3 separate regions of the Homo sapiens genome follow, and all the other regions are linked to region 1. The links come from fine-mapping of genetic effects on gene expression. A gene starts in region 1. Each other region holds a variant in brackets. All regions are shown on one strand. Distances are between the middles of the regions.

Evidence for each region. PIP is the estimated chance that this variant, and not a neighbour inherited with it, causes the effect.
Region 2: its variant is fine-mapped to the expression of DGCR2 in atrial appendage (GTEx, PIP above 0.99).
Region 3: its variant is fine-mapped to the expression of DGCR2 in atrial appendage (GTEx, PIP above 0.99).

What each region holds. Positions count from the first base shown.
Region 1 is chr22:19,118,960-19,126,959 of GRCh38, forward strand. It overlaps DGCR2 (DiGeorge syndrome critical region gene 2), which reads right to left and starts at 3,453. Exons shown (of 10, transcript NM_005137.3): 1 at 3,169-3,453. The coding sequence starts at 3,247. It also overlaps the pseudogene TSSK1A. RefSeq lists an enhancer at 2,812-3,313 and silencers at 3,098-3,217, 3,338-3,777.
Region 2 is chr22:19,138,930-19,146,929 of GRCh38, forward strand. It overlaps ESS2 (ess-2 spliceosome associated protein), which reads right to left and starts at 5,722. Exons shown (of 10, transcript NM_022719.3): 1 at 5,577-5,722; 2 at 3,797-3,965; 3 at 3,609-3,704; 4 at 926-1,095; 5 at 683-800; 6 at 230-363. The coding sequence starts at 5,711. RefSeq lists an enhancer at 4,791-5,297. The variant A/G (reference allele first, on the strand shown) is at 4,418.
Region 3 is chr22:19,034,263-19,042,262 of GRCh38, forward strand. It overlaps DGCR2 (DiGeorge syndrome critical region gene 2), which reads right to left. Exons shown (of 10, transcript NM_005137.3): 8 at 7,545-7,697; 9 at 6,796-7,032; 10 at 2,024-4,859. The coding sequence ends at 4,603. It also overlaps the pseudogene CA15P1. Among named protein-coding and RNA genes, the nearest start is that of FAM246C, 8.7 kb to the left of the region's middle. RefSeq lists a silencer at 1,757-1,926 and an enhancer at 2,410-3,030. The variant C/T (reference allele first, on the strand shown) is at 4,122.

The DNA of each region.
Region 1 (8,000 bases):
CTCATCACACCCCCAGTGATCATAACACACATCATCAGTGGTCACATGGCCAAACACAGAAGGGATTTGGCAGAGGGTGAGTGGTTCTGTCCCTCAGACTGGAGTATCCACATGGAAAAAGATTCTGCACCCTCACCTAGAGGACCCTGGGACCTAACAGGGGACAGAGGCAGTCTGTGGCTCCACCTGGGGTTAAGGAAGCTGTTCAGAGCATAATATGAGGTACTCCTGTGGCTGGGCTGGAGACACACAGTTGGAGTGCACAGACCCCAGTCACGGGTGCATGATGGGGGGAAGGCCAGACTCCTACGATGAAATCTCATCTCAGCCTTAGCTTCATGAGTGCTCTGGATTTCAGCTTCCCCATCTTTAAATGAGGCTAAAAACAGCATCTAGCAGGGACCTCTTGAGAGTTAACATATGTTAGTGCTTAGAACAGTGTCCGGCACATGACACATCTTAAATCAAGTTCAAATGTGCACTTAAAAAAAAATTGCTGGGCATGGTACCTCAGGCCTGTAATTCCAGCACTTTGGGAGGCCAAGGCAGGTGGCTCACCAGAGGTCAGGAGTTCCAGACCAGCCCGGCCAACATGGCAAAACCCCATCTCTACTAAAAATACAAAAATTAGCCGAGCGTGGAGGCGTATGCCTGTAATCCCAGCTACTCGGGAGGCTGAGGCAGGAGAATCGCTTGAACCAAGGAGGTGGAGGTTGCAGTGGGCCAAGATCACGCTACTGCACTCCAGCCTGAGCAACAGAGCAGGACTCTGTCTCAAAAAAAAAAAAAAAAAAAAAATTGGTGAAAGGTCAAGTACAGCAAGCACTTGCTGCCCCATAACTCCATGAAAGGCCTTCCACCCTGCCCTGTACCAGAGAGGAAGCCCAGGTGGCTTGGCATCATCTTCAGGGACCCCACCAGGCAGGAGTCAGAAAACACCCTCCTGAGAAGTGGGCTCTGACTGATACCTTCCTCATACTCAAGTATGCTTTTAAGGCCGGAATCCCCACAGAAAGAACGCAGACTAAGACCAGAGAAGCCCCAGCCTCTTGCAAGCACCAGCCAGGCAGATCCCTGCAGCACTCTCAGGAAGGACACATGGTGAATGTGTGAAGAGGCACACACGGGCATACAAGGAACACATCAGGCCCAGAGGCCTGCCCTCCCTGCCCAGCCAAAGCCAGGAAGCCAGCTGCAGCTCCCGGGTTCTGCAGGGCAACTCAAGACGCCTCCAGGGGTAGCTGCAATGTTCTCATCTGGAGAGTCATGGAATCGAAAGAATAAGTTTGCTCCCTCTACCAGATCCACCCCACCCATGCCCTACTCCGACCTCAGTGTGAGGTCTCCTGTGACGCCCTCACTGCTTCACAGGTACAAAAAGATGGCCACCTCCACCCACCTCTGGGACCCCACACTCCAGGGTATTCAACACACAGGAGTGTGACAAGTGACTTACACCTGGCCTCTGTTCCACATCAGGCACTCCTAAAAGGAGGGGCTTGTTCTTGTCACTTGGATTCCCTAGGGATGGGCAGGGGGCAAGCACCCACAGGCACTTTCTCAGTTGCTGCTGGCCAGTTGGCAGGCTATGTGAAAAGGCTGGCAAGGAAAAAGGAGTCGGGGACGTCAGTCACCTCTATCACCCAGGCAGGAGATGCTGGGCCTGGAACCAGAGGCACCCCAAAGAAGCCAGGCATAATATGGCCTCACCTGAGCCCGGTGACCTCATCTGCAAAACTGGGACTCAAGAATCAGAAAACGGTGACCTTCTACCTCTCTACACGTACATATATGTTTTCTAAAGAAGTTAATCACAAGAATCCACAAACCCATTGGTTCTGACCTCCAAGAGCCTATATGATACCCTCCTCCACAGGTAGCCCTTTTCCTGGCTTCTGTTCTTACCAAGGCCACCCCACAACTAGTCATCCCGCTGCCCAGAGAGCAGCCAAAAGCAGTGAGCAACTAGCTCTACATGGGGAGACCAGAGAAGCATCACTGAATCTGTCCAGGTTGAGCACCGGTCAGGGCCTTGGCCACCAGGCAGGCACTAGGGAGGAGGCAGACATTCCACATAGATGACACAAGCGCAGAGCCAAGAGGTGCGGTGTATCTGGGCTGGGAGCCTGGCTAGGGCACAGGAGAGGGCCACACACCCCGTGCTCCCACACCCAGGTCATCAGAGAAGATGGCCCTGGCACTTCTGCCTTCATGGGACCTTTCCTCCATTAAGAAATATTAAGAGTCATGCTTTTTCACTGTATTAGTATAAAGATGACTGTATTAATATACATACGAAAACATTTTATTTGACCTAAAAGTTCATTTTTTTTCTGCTGACTTTAAAAAAAAATAAAATAACATTCGAAGGCTACTAAAAGTACCGTGGGCAAGTGATACCAGGATTCCTGTGCCTGATGGATACATCGGCCCTGCATTTAGGGAGTTTGATTTTTTGGTGCAGTTCAAGGGGAGGTACACCGAAATAGGTAGAAAAGGGTCTCCTGGTTGCCACGGTTCTGATTCCCCACCACAGACTTAAGAACACACTAGCTCCGAGGGGAGTTCCAAAGCACGGACTCATTCATCACATACACGCAGCACGGCTAAGGGCCCCGCACAGTGGCGAGGTCTCTGCTCCCGGGACGCTCGCGCCGGCCACACAACGCTAGGCTGACTCCTGGTGCCTCCTCTAGGCCCGGTGGGACCTGAGGACTTCCTTAGCGCAACGTCTCACTGAATGACAGCCACAACCACCGCTGTCCAGGCGAGGAGTTTCCAGGACTGAGAGGCTGGCACTAGGCCACTGCTGGGAGGACGTCTGTGAAACCAGGTGCCCCTGAGAGCCACTGTCCCCAGCCCGACTCCGACGCTGGACTGGCGAGAGGGTGCGCCCGTGGCGTAGCTCCTGGCCGCCGCCGCTCCCGGGAAGGGCCCAGAGGCAACATCCTGGACAGCAGAGCTGCACGAAGTCCGAGGCGCCGCGAGCCCAGGTAAGCTCCAGCAGGCGTCCGCAGAGAGTGCCAGGCGGCCCGCGAGCCAGGCCCCGCCCGCCCCTGCCCCAGGCGCGGCCCCTGCAGGAGGGCGCCGCGGGTGAAAGGAGGTCCCGGGGCGACCCCGGCCCCGCTCGCCGCCCAGCCCCCACACCGCCCCCATCGCGCGGCGCACCTGGCCGCAGCGGCTCGGTGACAGTGAGCACGAGCAGGAAGAGCAGCAGGAAGGCGCCGCTGTCTGCCTTGGGCACCATTTATCCTCCGTTCATCGTCCCCGGGGCGGCTGGAAGGCCGGACCAGGCCGGACTGAGGGTCAGGGGACCGTGCCAAGCGGAGGGTCAGGCGGAGCTGAACCTGGGCGAGGCGCGGAGAGGCGGCGGGAAAGAGCTTCGGCTGGGCCGCGGGCTGGCGCACACTCTCGGCTGCAACCTCAGGCACCGACTCCAGCTGCGCGCAAGATGGCGGCCGTCCTGCTCGGCTCCGCGCCGCGCCGCCCCGCCCCGCCTCCCGCCCGCGACGCAGGCGCGGGCCAATGACCGTCAAGATGGGGGGCGGGGCCAGAGCCAAAGCCCTCCGAAGAGGGTGAGGCCTAAGGTCGCGACGGCGGAGGGCGGGGACCTAAGGGCGGGGACTGAGGGGCGGGCTCTAAGGGAAGGGCGGGACCATACGGAGTGAGGCGTGCCATTGGTTAAGCAGAGAGGCAGGGCCGGGGCCGGGGCCTGAGCGGCGGGGCCACCGAAGGGAGTAGGGTCTCTGGACGCCGGTTAGGGACGGCGGGCGCGGGACGGCAAGGATGGACATCGAAAGGCGCGGGGCATGGGGCGGGGCGCCGAGGGGTCGCGCGGGTGGGGAGCGGAGAGAACGAAGTGGGAACCTGGCTGGGACTCCAAGGGTCTTCACACCTGCAAGCTCAGGTCCCGTGAGCAGCCCAAAAGTGCGCCCCAAAGGGGTCTTTTTAAGGCCGAACCGCTGTGGAGGAGGGAGGGCCTGCCGGTTCTGAGGGTGGGGAAAGAGGAACAGGAATGGCCTAAGAGAGTGTCAGGCAAAGAGAGACCGGGAAGGCCAGGTCCTGGAGACTGCAGCGAAGCCGGCTCCCTGGAGGACCTGCCTACACAATGGCTAGGGGAAGGCCACATGTGCAGGAAAGAAAGCTAGGCAGAGAGGAGGCTCAGCGCCCCTGCGAACAGTGCTCCAAGTGCCACTTCTCCCGTCATCACCAACAGGGTGAACCTTGGAGGGCAGTGTCGGCGAAGAGTCCAACTCTGTAAAATATTTGAAGACATTTCTTCTGAGCCAATATGTGACCAATAGCCTGGGACACAGCCCCAGGAGATCCTGACAAGTGCCCAAGGGGGTAGGGCCACAGCTTGGTTTTATACATTTTAGGGAGACAAGACATCAATCAGCACATGTAAGATATACATTGGTTCAGTCGGAAAAGGCGGGACAACTTGAAAGTGGGGGGTGGAGGGGGGCTTCTAGGTCATGCGGATTGGCAGTTGGTTCAAAGAGTTTATCTAAAGACCTGGAATCAATAAAAGGGACTGTCTACATTAAGGGGTTGTGGAGACCAAGTTTCTTAGGCAAATGAAGCCTCCAGGTATCAGGCTTCACAGAGAAAAGACTGTTAATGTTTCTTATTAAAAAGTGCCAGACTCTGCCGGGTGTGGTGGCTCACGCCTGTCATCCCAGCACTTTGGGAGGCCAAGGCGGGCGGATCACCTGAGGTCAGGAGTTCAAGATCAGCCTGGCCAACATGGTGAAACCACATCTCTACTAAAAATACAAAAGTTACCCAGGCGTGGTGGCACACGCCTGTAATCCCAGCTACTCAGGAGGCTGATGGCAGGAGAATCGCTTGAACCGGGGAGGCAGAGGTTGCAGTGAGCCAAGATCATGCCACTGCACTCCAGCCTGGGCAACAGAGTAAGACTCTGTCTCAAAAAAAAAAAAAAAAAAAAGGAAAAAAAAAAGGAAAAATAAATAAAAGGTGCCAGACTCTAGTTAATTCTCTCAGGAGAAAAGACCTTGAAAGGGATAGGGATTCTCTACAGAATGTAGATTTTCCCCACAAAAAACAGCTTTGCAGAGCGACTTCAAAATATGTGAAAGAAACCTGTTTTGCAGTAAAATATGTGTTTCCTTCCGGGCCTGCTGTCATGCTGGTATCTTACTGCCACAGAGTCTGTTGTCAGTCTTCAAGTCTCTGTGTCGATGTTACACTGCTTAGCTGTGCCTGAAACCTGAAGGGAGGAGGGATAATGAGGCCTGACTCCCACTTCCTATCACGGCCTGAAATAGTTTTTCAGGTTAAGTTTGGAATGCCCTTGGTGGAGAGGAGGGGTCCATTCAGATGGCTGGGGGGTTAGAGTTTTATTTTTGGTTTCCAGGAGACAGTAGTTGGGGTGTCCCCAGCGGGAAGGAGAAGGAGGCTGTCTGGAAGGAGGAGAACCAAGAATGCACAAAGGCCTGGCAGTGGGCAGTCAGCGTTAGGGAAGAAGGTGAAGGAGCAGAGAAAAGGGGGAAGGGCCACGGCAGGTGGGGACCCAACCCAACATGAGTGACAACCAGCCCGCCCTACCAAGTCATCCTGAGGGGCCCAGGGTTCCACTTGGCTCCTGTGAGAAAGGGGTGCTCACTCCCTCTAGGTGGATGAGGCCAAAGTCAAATCCAAGGCTAGGATAGTCATGTGACTCCTACTCCCCTAGGGCATAGCCCGGAACAAGTGCTGGACACAGAGCCTGGCACAGCAGAGGGGCTCCACTGCCAGAAAAAACAATGGCCACACTCTCCAGTGCTGCCCCTGCTGCTTGTACTGTCCTCAGAGCAGCCACCAGTGCTCAGGGTGGCATCCAGTCCCCGCCTTTAGCCCCCAGCCCCAGATCTGCCCTGGGAGCCCAGCCAGGGGCAGAAAAAAAACTAGTTCATTGAGTGCCAGGGAGCCCTGCCCAAGGACATGGCGTGCAAGATGTTCCACCAACTCTCCTCAGCCATTAAATACTGCCACGACCTGGACATCATGCACCAGAACCTCAAGTGTTAGAACCTTCTCCTCGACAAGGACTTCAACATCAAGCTGTTCTACTTCAGGTTCTCCAAGCTCTGCCTGCGGGATGACAGTGGCCAACAGAGATTAAGCAAGAACTTCTGCGGGTTGGTGGCATATGCAGCCCCCGAGCTGCTGCAGGGCATCCCCTACCAGCCCATGGTGTATGACATCTGGAGCCTGGGCATGATCCTCTACATCATGGTCTGCAGCTCCATGCCTTACGACTCCAACATCAGGAAGATGCTGCGTATCCAGAAGGAGCACCGCGTGGACTTCCCACACTCCAAGAACCTGACAGACGAGTGCAAGGACCTCATCTACTGCATGCTGCAGCCCGACGTCAGCCAGCGGCTGCACATCCATGACACCCTCAGCCAATGCTGGGTGCAGCCCAAGGCACAGGGACTGCCCTCTATGGTCTTCAACAAGGAGGGGGAAAGCTCCCAGGGAACTGAACTCTTGTGGACCCCTGAACCTGGCTCTGCCAAGAGGTCTGCCACCAAGCTGGAGCCTGGGGAACAGACACAGCCCGAGGGACAGCCTGAGACAAAACCTGAGGGGTTGGCAATGCAAATGTCCAGGCAGTCGGACATCCTAGGCTTCCCCAGCAAGCCGTCGACCAGGGAGAAAGAGGAAGGGCCCCCCAGCAGCCTCCAGAGATGCGCACCTAGTGAGCCGTTTGTGGCCCAGTGTGCCAGCGGCGAATGAGATGGAGCTCACGCCTTCAGGCCCAAGCTCTGAAGAAGTCAAGGCACAAACCAGAGAAGGAAGACGGTCCCGGATGAGCCGCTGTTTTCATCAATTTCTTCTCTCTCCCCTTGAACTTCATAACCGACATTGCTAAAGGAGCAATAAATCACTATATTAATGCAGATGCCAAAGTGAATGTCTTTGCCTCAACTGACTAGTCCTGGGCTCCCCTCCACTGGTTTCCCACTCAGATTGTGCAATGATTCCTCGTTTGCTTGGGAAAACACATCCCAACGTGCCCAGTCCAGACCATGACCTCAGGCCCAGGCTGGGGCTGGGGCTTGGGCTGGGGCTGGGAGAGACCTGGAGGGGCAGGGGCCAGAGCTGAAAGGTGAGTGAGGAAGCCGCTGCCTCAGAAGGGACGCCCCCAAGTGCGGTGCTGGGGTCGGGAAAGGGCAGGGAGAGGACAGGACCAAGAAGCATGCCGAGGTACCCCTGTAGAGGAGCGCAGGCTTTATCTGCAGTTGGGACTGAGGGTCTGGGCAGACCTCTCCAGCCCCACAAGGCTGCCAGTGGGGGTTGTGGGAGGCTGCAGAGGGCAGGTGGCCAGCCTCTCAGCCACTCCTGAGCTCCCTACCCTGCTGGGCAACTCGTTCATTGTGCTCTGTCCATCAGAGGCCCCCTGTGTCCAGCCAGCACCCAGCTTTCAACAGTGCCGGGGTCGCCGCACCCTGTGGTCATTCTCTAGCCCGGGAGAAATAGGAGGCTCTGCTGGATGGCCCAGCCACACTCCAGCCTGAGCATGTCCCACAGTCTTGTGTGGTCTTGACCACATCTTGTTGTCCCCGTCCCAGCCTGTCCCAAGGGACGACACCCCTGCATTAGAAGTTGACACTGGCAAGTAGGATACGACAGGCAACCACAAAGGACAAGCGCTTTCAGAATTACCTCTCCCATGGCCTCTAAGTGGATGGGGCCAAAGTCAAACCCAAGGCTAGGACTGTCATGCGACTCCCACTCCCCCAGGGCGGGGCCTGAAGCAGGTGCTGGACACAGAGAATGTCAGAGCAGAGGAGCTCCACTGCCAGCAACATCGATGATCACTGTCCACAGTCTACCTATGGTCACTTCTCTACCTCGGGAAGACCCCAACCTCAGTCCCCTTGGAGAAGTAGGGTCTAGTGAGAGCCTGGACTGGCCCTCCTTGCGCTCTTCCCCAAGTCCACCTGCCTCCTCATGTTCTCACAGCCCCCTTCCACGTGGTTTAA
Region 2 (8,000 bases), 20 kb after region 1:
CATCAAGGGAGCTGGCACAGATCTGGACCTACAGAACGTGTGTGACCAAGGCAGTGTTCAATGGAAGCCCACTGGGGCCAAGGAAAGACTCAGGATCCTGCCGCACAGGGCCCCAGATGGTTCCACTCACTGAGCTCTGCCAAGCTCAAAGAGATGGGAGAGATCATGCCTGCCCCCAGGCAGCCCTGTCCAACCTGGCCCATGCGGCCCTGCTGACCCGCCTGCTCACCTGGGCATTGAGGGCGGCTGCCTGCTGGAGCTGGCACCTGCTCAGGGCTTGGCTGAAGGGGTCCCTAAGGAAGCGCGTGTTCTTATGTACCACCTGCCGGGGCTTCTTAAACAGCTGCTCCTCGTCAGGGACACCTGGCAGACGAAGCAAAGGTAGCAGCAGGTGTCAGAAGGGCAGCAGCCTAAGGAGCATGAGGAGCTCGCTTCTCGGCCAAGTCACTCCCAGATGAACAAAAGCATTGAGCAGAACGCAGGCCCCAGTGCCGCTGGAGAGGGTCTCACTCACTGCTGACCTCACACAGACCTGTCCACCCTTAGACAGACCAGTACCCATCAGAAGCCCAAACTGCAAGGGGGCACGGCCATACACACCTGGAAGGCTGCTCCAAACACAGCCAGACACACACAGCTCTACCCAACACCTCCCCATTTGGCTGCGAGGCCCGCCACTTACCCTCTGGATAGTACATGAGGGAATTCTTGGCCTTGTACTTCCAGGTCTCCACACTGGCCTGGCTGCTCTCGATGGCCTGGTGCTCTGCTGACGGGAGTTCGAGATTATCTTTCTGCCTCTGCAATCACATGGGGAAAAGTGATGGTCAGAGATGCCCCTGGGCATTGTACCCATGGCCCTGGGGCTCCCCAACCACCACAGAGGGTGCCTACGCCTATGTGACACCCCAGACCCCAGAGACACCTTCTCAAACTCTTCCTCAGCCTGGTAGAGCCAAGCGTGGCGTGCCCGGCTTCTCTCCTTGGCCACCTCCATGATCTCCTGGAAGGAGGCATTGTCCTCACTCGTGTAGCGGCTCAGGAAGACATCTAGGCTGGGCAGCGGCTCCTTCTCCTCCTCCTCTCCAGCCTCTCCTGCTTAGGGGTTGCGGGAGGAGGAACACAGCACCCTTTGCAGTCAGGAAAGAGGAGGACACCCAGGCCCAGGAATCATAGCCCCCAACATGCAGGGCTGGAATCCTCTCCCCTGGTCCTGGCTTCTGCCCATGAAAGCCCACACTGCCAAGGACTCCCCACGGGGGCAGAATCCACCCACCCTGACTGCCCAGAGAGCCCTCAGGTGGTACCCTACAGATTCAGGGCCAGCTCTGCTCATGTGCTGGATGCCAAGGGAATTACGTGGTCTGATTCAGACTGGAGAAAGCAATACAGGTGTTAGAGCAAGAGCTCGTGATCACAGGCAGGCTCCTCCCCCACCAAAGTGGTGCCAGGCCTGTGGGTGCCAGGCCTCCAAATCCCTGGGGCTCTCCCTCACTCCCTAGGATTTCCTTACCTTACCCACTCTTCTCTTCCTGGTACCTGTACTACAGGTGGGTGGTCATCGCCTAATCATCCTGACCTGAGAGCGAGCCCCAATTCCAGGGATCTCATATGACTTAGTCCTCTGGATGGGGCCTCACAGGTGCTAAGCCACAACCCCAAACACCCCCCCCTCCGACCAACCCTGCCACCATGGAAAGTGGTACTCCCACTGAGGTGGTGCCCTGGTGCTGCGTGTGGTGGTGCAAACTTCGGTGGGGCCACCTGGAGAGCTCTGCCTTCAAGTCTAGTGACAGTCCTGACCACCTGCTACACGTGAGGCTATGCACAAGGCACAGTGGCTACAAGCTCAAGACCCACGGGATGAGGACAGGGGTCAGAAACTCTATTCATCTCAGAGAGATAAGAAGTGAAACCCTGACCATCTCTGAGACCTGCAGAAGTGACTGCCTTTCTGAGCCTCAGTTTCCTCACCTGTAAACATGATGATGGTTCCTACCACTTAGGTTCTGAAAAGGATTCCTATATTTACTGGCATGTAGGTGTACAGGTATTGAAAATCTGCAAACTGGCTAGGCATGATGGCTCACACTTGTAATCCTAGCACTTCGGGAGGCCAAGGTGGGAGGATCACTTGAGCTCAGAAGTTTAAAACCAGCCTGGGCAACATAATGAAACCTCATCTCTATAGGAAAAAAAAAAAAAAGGAGAAGAAAAAAATCTACAAATTGCCCTGTGATGCACAAGCTACATTTCAACAGATAATCAAGCTTCAAGGACAACAAGGACTGTGTTAATGGCCGAAAAAGCTGGATTGTAAAGCAAAAAGTATCATGTTTGCATGTTTGTGCAAACACACAACACATCTGTGCTACTCCAGCACAGTGGAGTCTACAAACTGATAAGAAAGAGTGTCTCGTTTGTCTATACATGCACTGACATTCTACTACTGATGAAAAGAGGGCCTGACAACGCAGAAGTCCCATGGCGTGCAGAACACTTGCATTCAACAGGACTCGGAGTGCCCTTTCCTAAACCGACTCCCCCATCAAGTCACGATGTTACCATATAGAGCTGTGTGTCCCAGCAAACATGCTGAAGATGACAACTCTTTCATCTGTTCCATGTGTATCTGTGCAAGGCCCACAACACCACATGTGCTGTTCCCAACACGGAGCATACAGATGAAAGCAAAACAAAGCTTCTGCTCTTGTGCAAGGGATGCCAATTAGGGAAAGAGACCATAAACAGAAATGCCTTTAAAACGTTATGTCTTGGCCAGGCGCGGTGGCTCACACCTGTAATACCAGCACTTTGGGGGGCCGAGGCAGACAGATCACCTGAGGTCAGGAGTTCAAGACTAGCCGGGACAACATGGCAAAACCTCGTCTCTACTACAAAATACAAAAATTAGCCAGGAGTGGTGGCAGGCGCCTGTAATCCCAGCTATTTGGGAGGCTAAGGCAGGGAGAATTGCTTGAACCTGGGAGGTGGAGGTTGCAGTGAGCCGGGATCACACCATTTTACTCCAGCCTGGGTGACAGAGCGAGACTCTGTGTCAAAAAATTAAAAATAAAATGAAATTAAATAAAATAAAATGTCTTGTGATGAAAAACCAAAGCCAGGCTGGAAGCCACAGAGCACCAGTGGTGTTGTGACTTCACACTGGCAGGTCAAGAAAAGTTTCTCTGAACAGGTAACACCTATGCAGAGATCTACAGGAAGAAACACAGTGAGCCATGCAGTTATCTGGGAAGTGACCAACATGAAGGAAACAAATGGAGAGGCCCTGAGGCATCTTCAGGATAGTAACAAAAGGGGCCTTCCAACATCCATGAAGCCCACAGGGCAGGGCTGGAACACAGCAGAAAAGCCAGCAAGAGCTGGTGAGAGTCCCATTTCACAGAGGCGAGCCATGTGTGGGAGCTGGACCCAGATGTTCTACCACCTAGACCAATGTCCTTTGACTTCACAGGCTGCTATTTACGCAAGACCCCTCAGGAACAAGATGTGGCCTGCAGCCCTCTGGACCACCCCCTCAGGGCCTCACAGGCTAAGATTCCCAGGCAATCCTGACCATGTGACTTAAAGAGGGCACCCTCACTCACCATCCTCCAGGCCTCGGCCGCGGGGCCTGGGCTTGTTGCCCACCACTCCAGTGCCTGCATGCACCTCAGGGGTTTCAAATGTGGCTGGAGTCACATCTAGGGGAAGAGAGGGGGATAAGAATTAGAGTGAGCCTGAAGCGACAGTTCAGCAGGCTTTCCCCTCTCCGCCACCCACAGGGTCCTCATACAGGGTGGCGGGGGCTCCCGGGACATCTTGCCCAAGGCAGAGCCAAACTTGATGGCAATCTGGCGCATCCGTTCCAAGTCTCCATTCTCCTCGGCTTCCAGGTACTCCTTCTGTGCCTGGAGCTTCTCCACATCAGGAAAGAAATCCCTTTGGATGACCGTCTGGAGGCCCTGCAAGGAGAGATCAGAATGAAAGTCAGAGGCCAGGCGCGGTGGCTCACACCTGTAATCCCAACACTTTGGGAGGCCAAGGGAGGTGGATCATGAGGTCAGAAGTTCAAGACCAGCCTGGCCAACATGGTGAAACCCAGTCTCTACTAGAAATACAAAAATTAGCCGGGCGTGGTGGCAGGCACCTGTAATTCCAGCTACGTGGGAGGCTGAAGCAGAAGAATCGCTTAAACTCGGGAGGCGGAGGTTGCAGTGAGCCAAGATCACACCCCTGCACTCCAGCCTGGGCGACAGAGCGAGACCGTCTCAAAAAAAAAAAAAAAAAAGAAAAAAGAAAGTCGGAGCTGCAGTCTGGGTGCTCCTGCCTCACAGGTCCACTGCTGTACATGCTAAGGAACTTGCTGAACCTCCTTCAAATTCTACTTCCCCAATGACTGGGGCTGGATTGAGGG[A/G]GCTTGAGGGCACTTTCTAGTGGGGTTGAGCATCCCATATGGTAGCCATGCTGCAACCTCTAACATTACTAAACACTCTTCTGAAGTCCGTGAAACCCTTCTCTCTCGCCCTTGCTAACTGGTCATTCTCATTCTCCATTGCTGGCTCCCCACAAGCCAGACCAATGTGGGTGTTGTCACTTTCATTCCACACATGACTTTCTATTTCCAATCTAAACCTTTCTCCTGGCGGGGCATGGTAGCTCACGCCTGTAATCCCAGCACTTTGAGAGGCCAAGGCGGGCGGATCACCTGAGGTCAGGAGTTCGAGACCAGCCTGGCCAACATGGTGAAACCCCACCACTACTAAAAATACAAAAATTAGCCGGGCGTGGTGGCGGGCACCTGTAGTCACAGCTACTCGGCAGGCTGAGGCAGGAGAATGGCTTGAACCCAGGAGGCAGAGGTTGGTTACAGTAAGCCGAGATCGCGCCACTGCACTCCAGCCTGGACGACGAGCGAGACTCCGTCTCAAAAAATAAAATAAAAATAAACCTTTTTCCTGAGTAACTTCAGCCAGTCACTACCACAAGTTGAGATTCCCAAGTCTGCACCTCCAGCCAGACCTTGCTCCCGAGCTGCATATCTGGGCACCCAACCGTCCGTTAAAGCCATCCATCTACATATCCCAAAAGGTGTCCCGAATTAAACAGGTCTAAAACCAAACTGACTTCCGCCAATCCCCGTTTCAGCTCCTCCTTCTGTGTGCGTGTGGTGGGGCGACGCAGGTCCACTCACTCGAGATGCTGTCACAACTGCGGTCTCTTTCCAGGAACCCCAGCATTCACACTTGCTGCCACCGCTCTTTAGAAAGCCCTCTTTGCCACCATCCTTCCAGTTTGTCAAACTCCTACTCACACTTTAACAGAAAATCTTCTTTCCCTGACCCCCGTCCCATACAAAGAGAGCCGCTCTCTCTTTTCCCTGACAACACTACTACAGCCTCTTCCACCACAGACGTCTTCCTCTGCCCTGTTTACTTGACTCGTGGGACCGTCCACACCCGGCTCCTCCACTTCCACGAGGAGACGGAGTGTCAACACCCGAGAGAGGGAACCTGAGAGGAGCTTGAAGCAGAGGATGGGCCCAGAAGTCGCCGGCGTCCGCACCGAGGTCGTACCTCGATATACTCTTCCTCGTCCAGGACCCGCTGCTTGCTCGTCGCAGCCCCAGCCTCTCCCGCCTCGCGCTTCCTCGGGGGCCTGGACGCGGCGGGAAGCAACAAGGACGACGCTGATGCGCCCGGCGTCTCCATCGCTATCCCAGGAAAAAGCTCGGGCCCAGCAGGCGCGTCACAGGGTGGAGGGGGCGGGACTGCACCATTTGCGCAGGCGCCTCCAATAGTTGGCCAATGGAAAAGCTGTGGCTCTAGAAAGCCAGCCCGCGCTCCGTTCTGACGTCACTATAAATGCTAGACTTTATTGGAAATGTAGTCCTTGTCCTGCCCCGCGCTATTCATGCTTGTCAATGCTGTGAACACGAGGGGGTGCTGTGGAGGTGGCGGGGAGGATGCTATAGGGCGTGTTCTTCACGCGAGAAATTCTGGCTTTGCAGCGTCCAAAGGCCTTAGAATTCTAATTTCCCACAAATAAGAACTATGTATGCTTCGAGATTATTCTACAAAAATACAAACCAGGAAATTTACTTATATAGGAGTTTCAAGCTTTATGCAAGAAAAGGGCCTTAAAACAATTTTTTTTTTGAGACGGAGTTTCGGTCTTGTTGCCCAGGCTGGAGTGCAATGGCATGATCTCGGCTCACCGGAGTTCCCGGGTTCAAGGGATTCTCCTGCCTCAGCCTCCCGAGTAGCTGGGATTACAGGCATGGGCCACCACGCCCGGCTAATTTTGCATTTTTAGTAGAGACAGGGTTTCTCTATGTTGGTCAGGCTGGTCTCTGGATTACAGGCGTGAGCCACCGCACCCGGCCAAAACAATCTTTTTTTTTTTTTTATAGTTATCTAACAAAAGGTGAAAGAACAAGACAGTGGTTCGATTAAGAAATGTCTAAAGATTATTCTGTAATCCCAGAACTTTGAGAGGCCAAGACAGGCGGATCACCTGAGGTCAGGAGTTCTAGACCAGCCTGGCCAACAAGATGAAACCCCATCTCTACTAAAAACACACAAAAAAATTAGCTGGGCATGGTGGTGGACGCCTGTAATCCCAGCTACTCGGAAGGCTGAGGCTGGAGAATTGCTTGAACCCAGGAGGCGGAGGTTGCAGTGAGCTGAGATTGCACCATTGCACTCCAGCCTGGGTAACAAGAGCAAAACTCTGTCAAAAAAAAAAAAAAGATTATTGGGCCCCCAAATGCCAGAGTGGGCTTCCCAGAAGAGGGATCATTCTCATTCAAGACCAGGCACGGTGGCTCACGCCTGTAACCTCAGCACTTTGGGAGACCCAGGCAGGTGGATCACTTGAAGTCAGGAGATTGAGACCAGCCTGGCCAACATGGTGAAACCCCAACTCTACTAAAAAAAAAAAAAAATACAAAGTGGTGGTAGGTGCCTGTAGTCCCAGCTACTTGGGAGGCTGAGGCAGGAAAATCACTCAAACCCAGGAGGTGGAAACTGCAGTGAGCAGAGATTGTGCCACTGCACTACAGCCTGGGTGACAGAGTGAAACTCTGTCAAGAAAAAAAAAAATTAATATTCAAGTGAACCAGAAAATTGCCTCGGCATTTTTAAGGAATTTCTTCCCAAACGAAAGATGTGAATTGTGTTGGACAAATAAATTCCGCCCTGGAACAATTTAATACAATTTTGCTTTTGCAACATACAGGGATACCTTCATTCACTGAAGTGCAGCGTGCTGCTGCTGCCCTTGTAGAAGTGACAGTGCAATGGGGAAGACAGAGACACTTGTTAGATCATCACACAAACAGGTGTAAAATTGCAGCTGTGTCCGTGCAAGAAAAGAGTTTGTACTTGGGGAATCTTGACCTAGTTCGGGAGGTCAGAGAAGCTTCCCCAGGCAGAAAGTGATTGCAGATTCAAAAGACGAACAAACCGGCAACAGTCAGGTGGAAAGAGCATGTGCAAAGGCCTAGTGGTGGGAGGGAGCAAGGCAAGTTCTAAAGAAGTCCTTTGGAAATGCAGAGTGCAGTGAGGTGTGAGATGATGCCAGAGAGGCAGGGCCAGGCTGCACAGGGCCTTGTAGGGTATGGTGAGGTGGTTTGTCTTCATTCTGAATTGAAGGGGCAGGCCAGGCACAGTGGCTCATGCCTATAATCCCAGCACTTTGGAAGGCCTAGGCCGGCGGATAGTTTGAGGTCAGAAGTTTGAGACCAGCCTGGCCAACATGGCAAGACCTCATCTCTACAAAAAACTTTTCAAGTTAGTCGGGTGTGGTGGTGCCCACCTGTGGTCCTAGCTACTCAGAAGGCTGATGGGGGAGGATCGCTTGAGCCCAGGAGCTGGAGGCTATAGTGAGCCATGATTGCACCACTACACTCCAGCTTGGGTGATGGAGCGAGACCTTGTCTCAAACCAACCGACAAACAAAAAAGCAGAGCCAGTGTGGTGCAGGTGGACAAGATTAGA
Region 3 (8,000 bases), 85 kb before region 1:
CCACAGTAACGGGCACACCAGCCTTGACTGACTCGGGACCGGCAATCACAGCAGGCCCAGACTCACACACAGGGGGACAGTCACGCACTTGCACCTGATGCCCAGTCAGTCTACTGGGGCAGACGACTACAGACAGAAACCTGCAAAGGCCACAGAGTGCAGGGTGCAGACTGTCTCTTGGCCACTCTTGCACCACTGGCACATGCTCTGGTGGTCCCAGGACACAGACTGATCTGACACAGCCTCACATGACACTCTGTCCTCACCATACTTGAGGTCCTGGGAGTCATAGCACCAGGCACCTATAGAGACAGTGGGCAGGAGGCTGAGCTGAGAGGCCAGTCATCTGGGCCCTCTCCAAGCCCCATCCCATCAGCTGGGGTCCAAGAATGAAGTAGGTCAGGGGTTTAGGCCAGGGGAGGCCAGTGAAGAACCTTCTCTCCTGTCACCCCTACCTCAGTATTTTCTCTCCCCAGTCCCTCCCCACTCCCAGTGGCAAGACCTAAGGGGTGGTGGAGCATGGCAAGAGGGTAGATTGGAGGCCAGACAGGAAGAGTCCTGGTGCTCACTCTCAGAGTCTGCGCCACACCAGCTGCACCGCAAGGCGAGCATGATGCCAGGGGCGTGCGTGGCTCAGTGGCAGCCGCAGCTAGGAAGGACTAGAAAGTGGCTAGACCACGCAGCCAGGATGCTGGCCTGGCTACTACATATTTATTCATTAGCTAGCTGGGCTAGGGGCGTGGCTACTGAGGAGAGGATGGGAGGGGTCGGTGCCCAGGCAGGGCCACCAGGAAGAGCGCGAGCGCTCCAAACTCACCCAGGTGTGCTCTGGTCCCAGGGCTGCACTGATGCCAGCAACAATCGCTGAGGTTAATCCTGCAGGGGAGGGGTGACCTATTATTATCCCCACTTACAGTCCAGGAAACAGAGGCTGGGGACCAGAATGACACACCAAAGCCACCAGCAAGAAAGGTCAAATAGTGAGGGCACCTTGGACCCCAGTGCCCATGACTTTCGGGGCAAGGATGGGAGGAAGGTGTAGGATGTCTCTTGCCCCACTGTGGGCCCGGAACTGCCACCCCATCCCAAGACCACAGCCTCCCTCCTACCCAGGCCCCCCTGCGGATCCAGGCCAAGACGGAGCCCTGCAGGAGGTCAGAGGAGGGGACTTCTTTGCACCCTGCGCCTCTTTCCAATCGCCAGAGGGCAGGGCCCTACCCACATTGGGGATGGGAAGACAGCCCCTACCCAGAGGCAGGGCTCGGGGCTCTGTCCAGAGTGCTGACAGTGACCTGTGTGCTCGGGACTCAACACCACCACTCCACTCCTGCCCCAGCAGATGGGATAAAAAATGAGGGGCCACATCCTCGAGGCTCCCATCCCTGCCAAGGGACTTACCAGTTCCTTTCCTAACCCTGACTCCTCTCGTGTCCGGCCGCAGGACGTCCCCCCAGTATACACATCTGGAGTGCCCCCAGAGCAGGGCATGCAATCACACTTCCTGGGCCCACTACCCTCTGAGACCTAGAGATGGCACTGCTGGACATGAGTGAAGAGGCCCCAGAGGACCTAGGCTACTTTGTAACATTAGGTGGCTTGGACTGGAGGGAGGGGCTGTTTCCAGCCACCCGGATGATGAGGGGAGCTTAGAGGAAATGGCGCTGACGGCCAGGTTCCAAGCCCTGCCCTACCACCCCGTCCCATGCTAGCTCCCAGATGGTGTCAAGCAGCCTTGCCTTTATGTGGATCCTGTGCACGTCAGCAACACCTGCCAAGGCAGCAGCCGATGCCCCAAGCAGGGCTGGGTGCTGCAGGATAGCTGTAGGCAGCTCAGGGCTGCTGCTCTCCCTGCACACTCCACCTAGGGGCTCCAGGCTCAGCTCTGCCTGGTCCTCAGGGGGTTTGATGGACGCCTGCAAGGGCTGCAAACCCTAGGTGCATTCTGCTGAAAGGTGGGTACCCAGCCTCTTCCACCTTAGCCTGTGGCAGCCGTGGGGGCCACACCAAGGACTAACCATGCCTCTTCCGGAACACAAGTTTATTTGGCATTTGGATGAAATGATTCTCACAGCATCTTAAGAAAAGTTAGTGTCAACCCAACCAAAAACTAAAAACCCTTAATGAAAACATAAAAAAACAGGCATCAAGACAATGTACAGTATCAAATCCCACCTCCGCATGGCAGGTCAGAGGGCACCTGGGCTCTGAGAAACCGTGGCAAGCTGGTCCTAGAGGAGGAGGACCCCTGGAGCACAAGGTTCAGCAAGGGTGACCCCGGGACTTGCTGGTCAGACTGGGGACTGCAGCAGGCCTTGCAAAGGGGGCATTCTGGATGGTGGTGCAAGAACAGATGAGCGAGTCCAGCTCTCCTCATGCTCCCAAGGGCCTCCTGGAGCCACAGTGGCAGCGGTGTTCCAGGCAGCCCTGCCATGTGGACCTTCTGCCTGGCCCAACGTGCCAGTGGCCTGAGTGCTTGTGGAGGCCCATGGGGAAGGGGCCACCCAGCAACCCCGGCCAGCCCAAGGCCCACCCTCTGCAGCCTGCATGGTCCACTTTACCCCGTTTCCTCACTGCCCCCTACGTGTCTGACCGGCCCCTAATGTTCCTCTGGTCCCCAAAGGAAGCGTCCCAGTCCCACACATCTCGTGCCAGCCACCCTGTCCCGCACACACAGTTCTGAGGCCTGGCAGGAATCCTCTGAGCTCTCAGGCTCAGGCCCGTGGGGGACTCTGCTGCGTGGTCCTCGGGCCCTCACTGGCCACCTGGCACCCATAATGCACATGCCTGCTGCTCTGGAACCTGGCTGCCCTGCCCCAGTGCATGTGGGATCCACGGCATGCTTCCTGCTTCGTCCTCTGCAGCCAGTAGGGGACTCCTGTGGCCAGGACTTCCTTGTTAAGTAGCAGCCCTTCTCCAAGGGGAGCACAAGCCTGCCCGCACACAGCCTCCAGCATCATGCTCCAGCAGGCCAAGCTCAGGGACAGGCAATTCAGTAACAAAACTCACAGCTCTGGACAGTTCTGGCACAAAGGTCAAGTCTGTCTGTGGGCAACTCAAGATTCTCATTCCACATGGGATGGAAAAAATGGGTCTCCAGCCACAGTGTGAGAATGTGTCAAGAAGTGGACTGTGCATGGAGTCCATCCCCGAGCAGCACCACAGAACTGCATGCTTCAGACAGGCCTCCCAGGTGCTGCCCCGCTGGTCTGGAAAGACTGAGCGAGACAGCACTGCCTCAGCACAGCCCAGGATGCATCGATGACCCTGGAAGAGTGGGCCCCCAGTGACCCGTGAAGTTCCATGTGCCACCCTCACCTGCAGACGCTTGGCCACATACACACACAGAGACACAAACATACAAAGGAAAGATCCAGACATTCAACGTAGAAAAGATATGGATGTGCTAAAAATCGCACAGAACCCGCTTAATCTCCAAACCTCAGAAATGTTAAAGGCCCTGTGTCAGGCAACAAAACCACTGCCCAGGAGCAGGCAACAGGGTCCGTCAGGCAAAAGGGTGCCAGGAAGGGCCCCCAGCCCCTGCGCTGCTGAGGAGGGGCCGGGAGGTGTGCATGCGGCCGCTGGGCACTGAGCTGCAGTAGTGGCGGTGATGTAAGGAGTGGACTTTAAGGAGATAGATGCAGCCCAGGATGGTGGTTTCAGCCACCCCTCCTGCAATGAAGCAACCCTTTATGGCACAAATGGGGCCGGGGGCAGGCCCAGGGGCAATTCAACAGGAGGCAAGAGCCCAGGGCTCCAGAGTGGAGAGACAGGAGGCAGCTCAGTCCCCAGACCCCAGCAGAGCATCTGGGGCCTCGGCCCCACTCCAGAGCTTCTTCCTGAGGGAGCCATGCACAGCAATGCTGGGAGAGGGACTGATGGGGTGGGGTCAGGCCTCCTGCCACAGAGCTGGGCTGCAGAGCCCAGATGGAAAGACACAGTGAAGAGCTCAACCTCCTTCCAAGCTCTCCTTCTCAGGGCTTCAGGTTCCAGAGCCCCAGGGGAGCTCCCAGCCAGGGGCAGGGTCACCTTGATATTCACAACTGGGCTTGTGGGGGCCATCTTCAGTGCAACCGTTGTGACAAAGTCAAGAGGCTGCCTCCCTGAAGCAGACCCACTGC[C/T]TACGCCACACTGACGGTCCAGAGGCCCCCTCCTGAGGGCGGCCAGCAAGGGGCACTGTGGCAGCTCCCACTGTGCCTGTCCCAGACTGGGTCAGCAGGTCTCTCTGGACAGCACACTGCACCAAGTAAGCCCACCAAAAACGCATCAGGTGTGGCCATGGCCCACAGTACCTTCTTCATTCCCTGCCTCTAACATGTGCGGTCTGAATGAATTTTGTCACTCTTCTGCCATTTATAAAGGAGAAGACAGTGATCCAAAGCTATGCATGTTTCTGAAGCCCTCAAGGAAGCTCGGTGCAGGCCATCACTTCTTTTGGCAGAAGGCGGGCTGTGGTCTCTATGTACACACGCGAGCCCGCCAGTGACGTGCGGCAGTGCGTGGCGTCCAGGCTGGGACAGGGGCCTTTCAAGTCTCCCCAGGGACCGGTGTTTTCTACAACAGACAGGTGCTCCCAGACCGTTGGGGTACAGGCCAGGCCGTCTACACCACAGTATTGAGGGAGCTGCGGCTGTGGCGGCCACCCCCTGGCAGTGCCTCTGCAGCTGGGGTGCTCCCGCTCTGGGCAGGGTCAGGGGGCACGAGCAGGGCGCTGCTGCTGTCGGCAGAGTCTTCCAGGTCTGCCAGAGAGGCCCCCGCAGTGGGCAGAGGCTGCTCCAGGCGCCGGAGTAATGCACCTTCACTCCCACCATCCCCAGGGGCTGGCAGGCTGACCTCCACAGGCTCAAAAGCATCATCGTCTGCAGGAAGAGACAGAGGGGTGTCAGAGGCAGGTACGGGCCTGGCACAGGGGATGCAGGGGAGCTAGGCAAAACCAGGAGACACTCCTCCTGCCTGAAGGCCCCCCTGAAGCTGGGTGGTGAGCAGGACCTGGGTGGCTCCCCCGGGCCTCAGATTTTGAAGGAGGAGCCTGCCCCACATGACACCTGTTGTACCTACTGCCCCCTGTGGCTGGGAACCTGGTATATGCAAGGTGCAGGGCCCATCTCACAAAGGCAGACACGGGCCTGTCCCACCATCGGTGTGAGGTAGGGGAGACACACTGACCAGCAGTCACTAGAACAGAGGGGCCCAAAGGGAAACCGTCTCAGACTCAGTAAGGTGAAGACCCGGCTCAGCAAGAAGGCAGGGGCATTTGTCATCAGGGAGGCACTGGGCCCAGGTGGGTGGAAGAACATTCAGGGCTGCAGCTGGAATGTGGCAACCGGAGTGTGGGCAACAGGGCTGCAGTGAGCGGCCTGGAAAACCACACAGGTGTTTGCAGGAAGCTCTGATCCAAGGCAGGCTGTGTGGTAGGCAGTCGACTCGCTTTGTTTTGCCCGATCTTTATTACTTGCTTTTTTTTTCTTTTAAGAGACAGGATCTTAAAAGATTGCACACTGGTGTGCAGTGACGTGACCATGGCTCATGACAGCCTTGAATTCTGGGCTCAGGTGATCCTCCATTCTCAGCCTGCCCAGTAACTGGGACTACAGCTGTGCCCACTATGCACGGCTAGTTCTGAATTTTTTGTGGAGAAGGAGGTCTCACAGGCTGGTCTCGAACCAACCTGGGCAACATAGTGAGACCCCTCCTCCCGCCTCAGCCTCCCAGAGTGCTGGATTACAGGTGTGAGCCACTGCGCCTGGGCTGCCTGCTTGTCATTACCATAGGCTGTCTCTGAAAGCTAACAGCACAAGGCCCCGGTGATGCACCTCCCTCCCGGCCAGCCCCTCACAGCCCCCACCCTGCTCTGCAGCCTGGCCCACACAGGTGTCTGGGATCTGCTGCCACCCACCACCATCCCTTGCAGGAAGCTGGTCCTACCCTGGAAGACTGTGACAATCTGTGTCATGAGGGCAGGGGTCAAATGCAAGTCTTTTCTGCACCCCCAGATCATGCAAGAGCTGTGGCAGCTGACTAAACAAACGAACAGGACTGAGACCTTTAGGCACAGCAGCCCCAGCCTCACAATGCCCATTCTGCCGAGATGGGCAGGCATGCAAGGAGCCAGCCACTTTGGGGTGGCACTGCCTACCAAATATACTACAGGTTTGTGTGTGTTAGGGGGCCTAATGCACAGGGAGATGGGATGGGACACCTGCACTGCTCAACAGAGACAGAGACAGGCCAGGGGTCAGGGGCCTGCCACTCCTTAGCTACACAGCCTTGAGGAATGGCGCCCACTCTCAGATGGGTGGTAGGCTCCAACTATGGGCCAGTAGCACAGAAGCCACGCTTTCCTCCCACCTCACAGAGCTGCCTCCTGACACGACAGGAGGGGCTGTCACCATGGTGTCTCTAGCTCATGTGTCTACAGACAAGTGATTGGCTCCTGGGTCTGGGCCAGCCCTGTCTTCACAACCACCACTGTCGGGCTCCCCAGGTCTCTAGAGCTGGGCTGAGGGCCCTGAGGGCTGCCCAGATGACAGGTGCTCACAGAAGGCAGGGAGGTAGGAGGGAGGGGTCCCAGGCCTTCTCAGAGCTCTCTGCACAGATTGCCAAGGGCGGCCAGGCAGGGAGATCAGGACCCCTTCTGCACGGGCAGCCCCAGGAGAAGCCTTAAAGGAAAAACCAAAGACAAAGCCGGAAAGAAGTGAGGTCCCTAGGCCTCTGCAGCTGGGCAAGAGTGCTGGGCTCAGCCCCACGTGCCAGGTTACTTGACAAGGTGTTCCCTCTCCCTGGGGAGTCAGGCACCTGCAGGGTCATAGAACACACTGTCCGGGTGGATGGAGGCCTCGTAGGGCGGCGGAGGGTCGTCGGGCTGGCCGATGTCCGGGTACTTGTATGCCGTGTAGGGAGGTGGAGGGTCGTGGAAATGGAAAGTCCCACCCTCTCCGTCGTCAGAAAGATGCAGCGGCGTGAGGCCCGTGCCAAACCCGTCTGGGCCGTAATCAAAGCCAGGGATCCTGCGGCCGAGGTTGAAGTGGTGCACTGGGCCATCAAAAGTGTGCAACGGGAACAGAGACAAGTCACTGGGGGCAGGCTGCCTGGCTCCTGAGCCCCCCACCCCCAGGCTGGGCCTGCCGTCCCTGAGTGCACACACCTGTGCCCCGCTGCCTACCCCTCGGCCACATTCGGCATCCCCATGAGACCCCTGGTGTGCTCCGTGGCATGTCTCACCCTCACCACACCAACCTGTCCCTCTGGGCTGACACTTCTGTCAGACCCAGCCTCTGGCTGACCACACCCCTCCAGCTGGAAGGGTGATCCGGGCCTCTGACCCTCAGAGGCCTCCGAGTTCTGCCCACCCTGTGGCTCAATGGGAATAAGGAGGGTCTTGGCAAGAACTTTCCTGGCCCACAGGTGAGGACACAGACCCCACAACATGTGGCCTTCAAACCTGCCTCTGCCCCTCTCTGTCCAGGGCTGGGGAGCTCATGGAGACATGGGGTGACCTGGGGTGGGGATGGGGACCAGGGTTGTGGCCCTCAGAGGGCACTTACAGTTTGCTCCAATCAGGGACTCGATGCGCTCCCGGCGCCGCTGGCGCAGCCGGTGGACCATGAAGAGCAGCAGTGACAGGATGAGGAAGGAGGAGATGCAGCTGACGACCAGGCGCATCCCGCTGGCCATGGAGTCAAACAGACTGTTGCCATCTGAGGGGGAGGGGAGGAAATGGCCGCTCTGAGAAGGGGGCCACCCTCGTGCTACGCTGGGGATGCTGTCGTCCTCCTGCCCAGGCGGGCTGTGTGGACAAGGCACACAGTGTCTCCCTGCACCCAACCATCTTTAGGATACATGTGAAATAAGGCCGCTCAAAATCAAGAACATGGTGACAGCACAGAAGCAGAAGAGCGAATCCCAGGTCAGGAGGAGCATCTCACCATGGCCCCAGGCTGCTGTGTGCCAACACCCCTCTGACCATCACCGGAGCAAACTAGGATTTCCTGTCCTAGGAC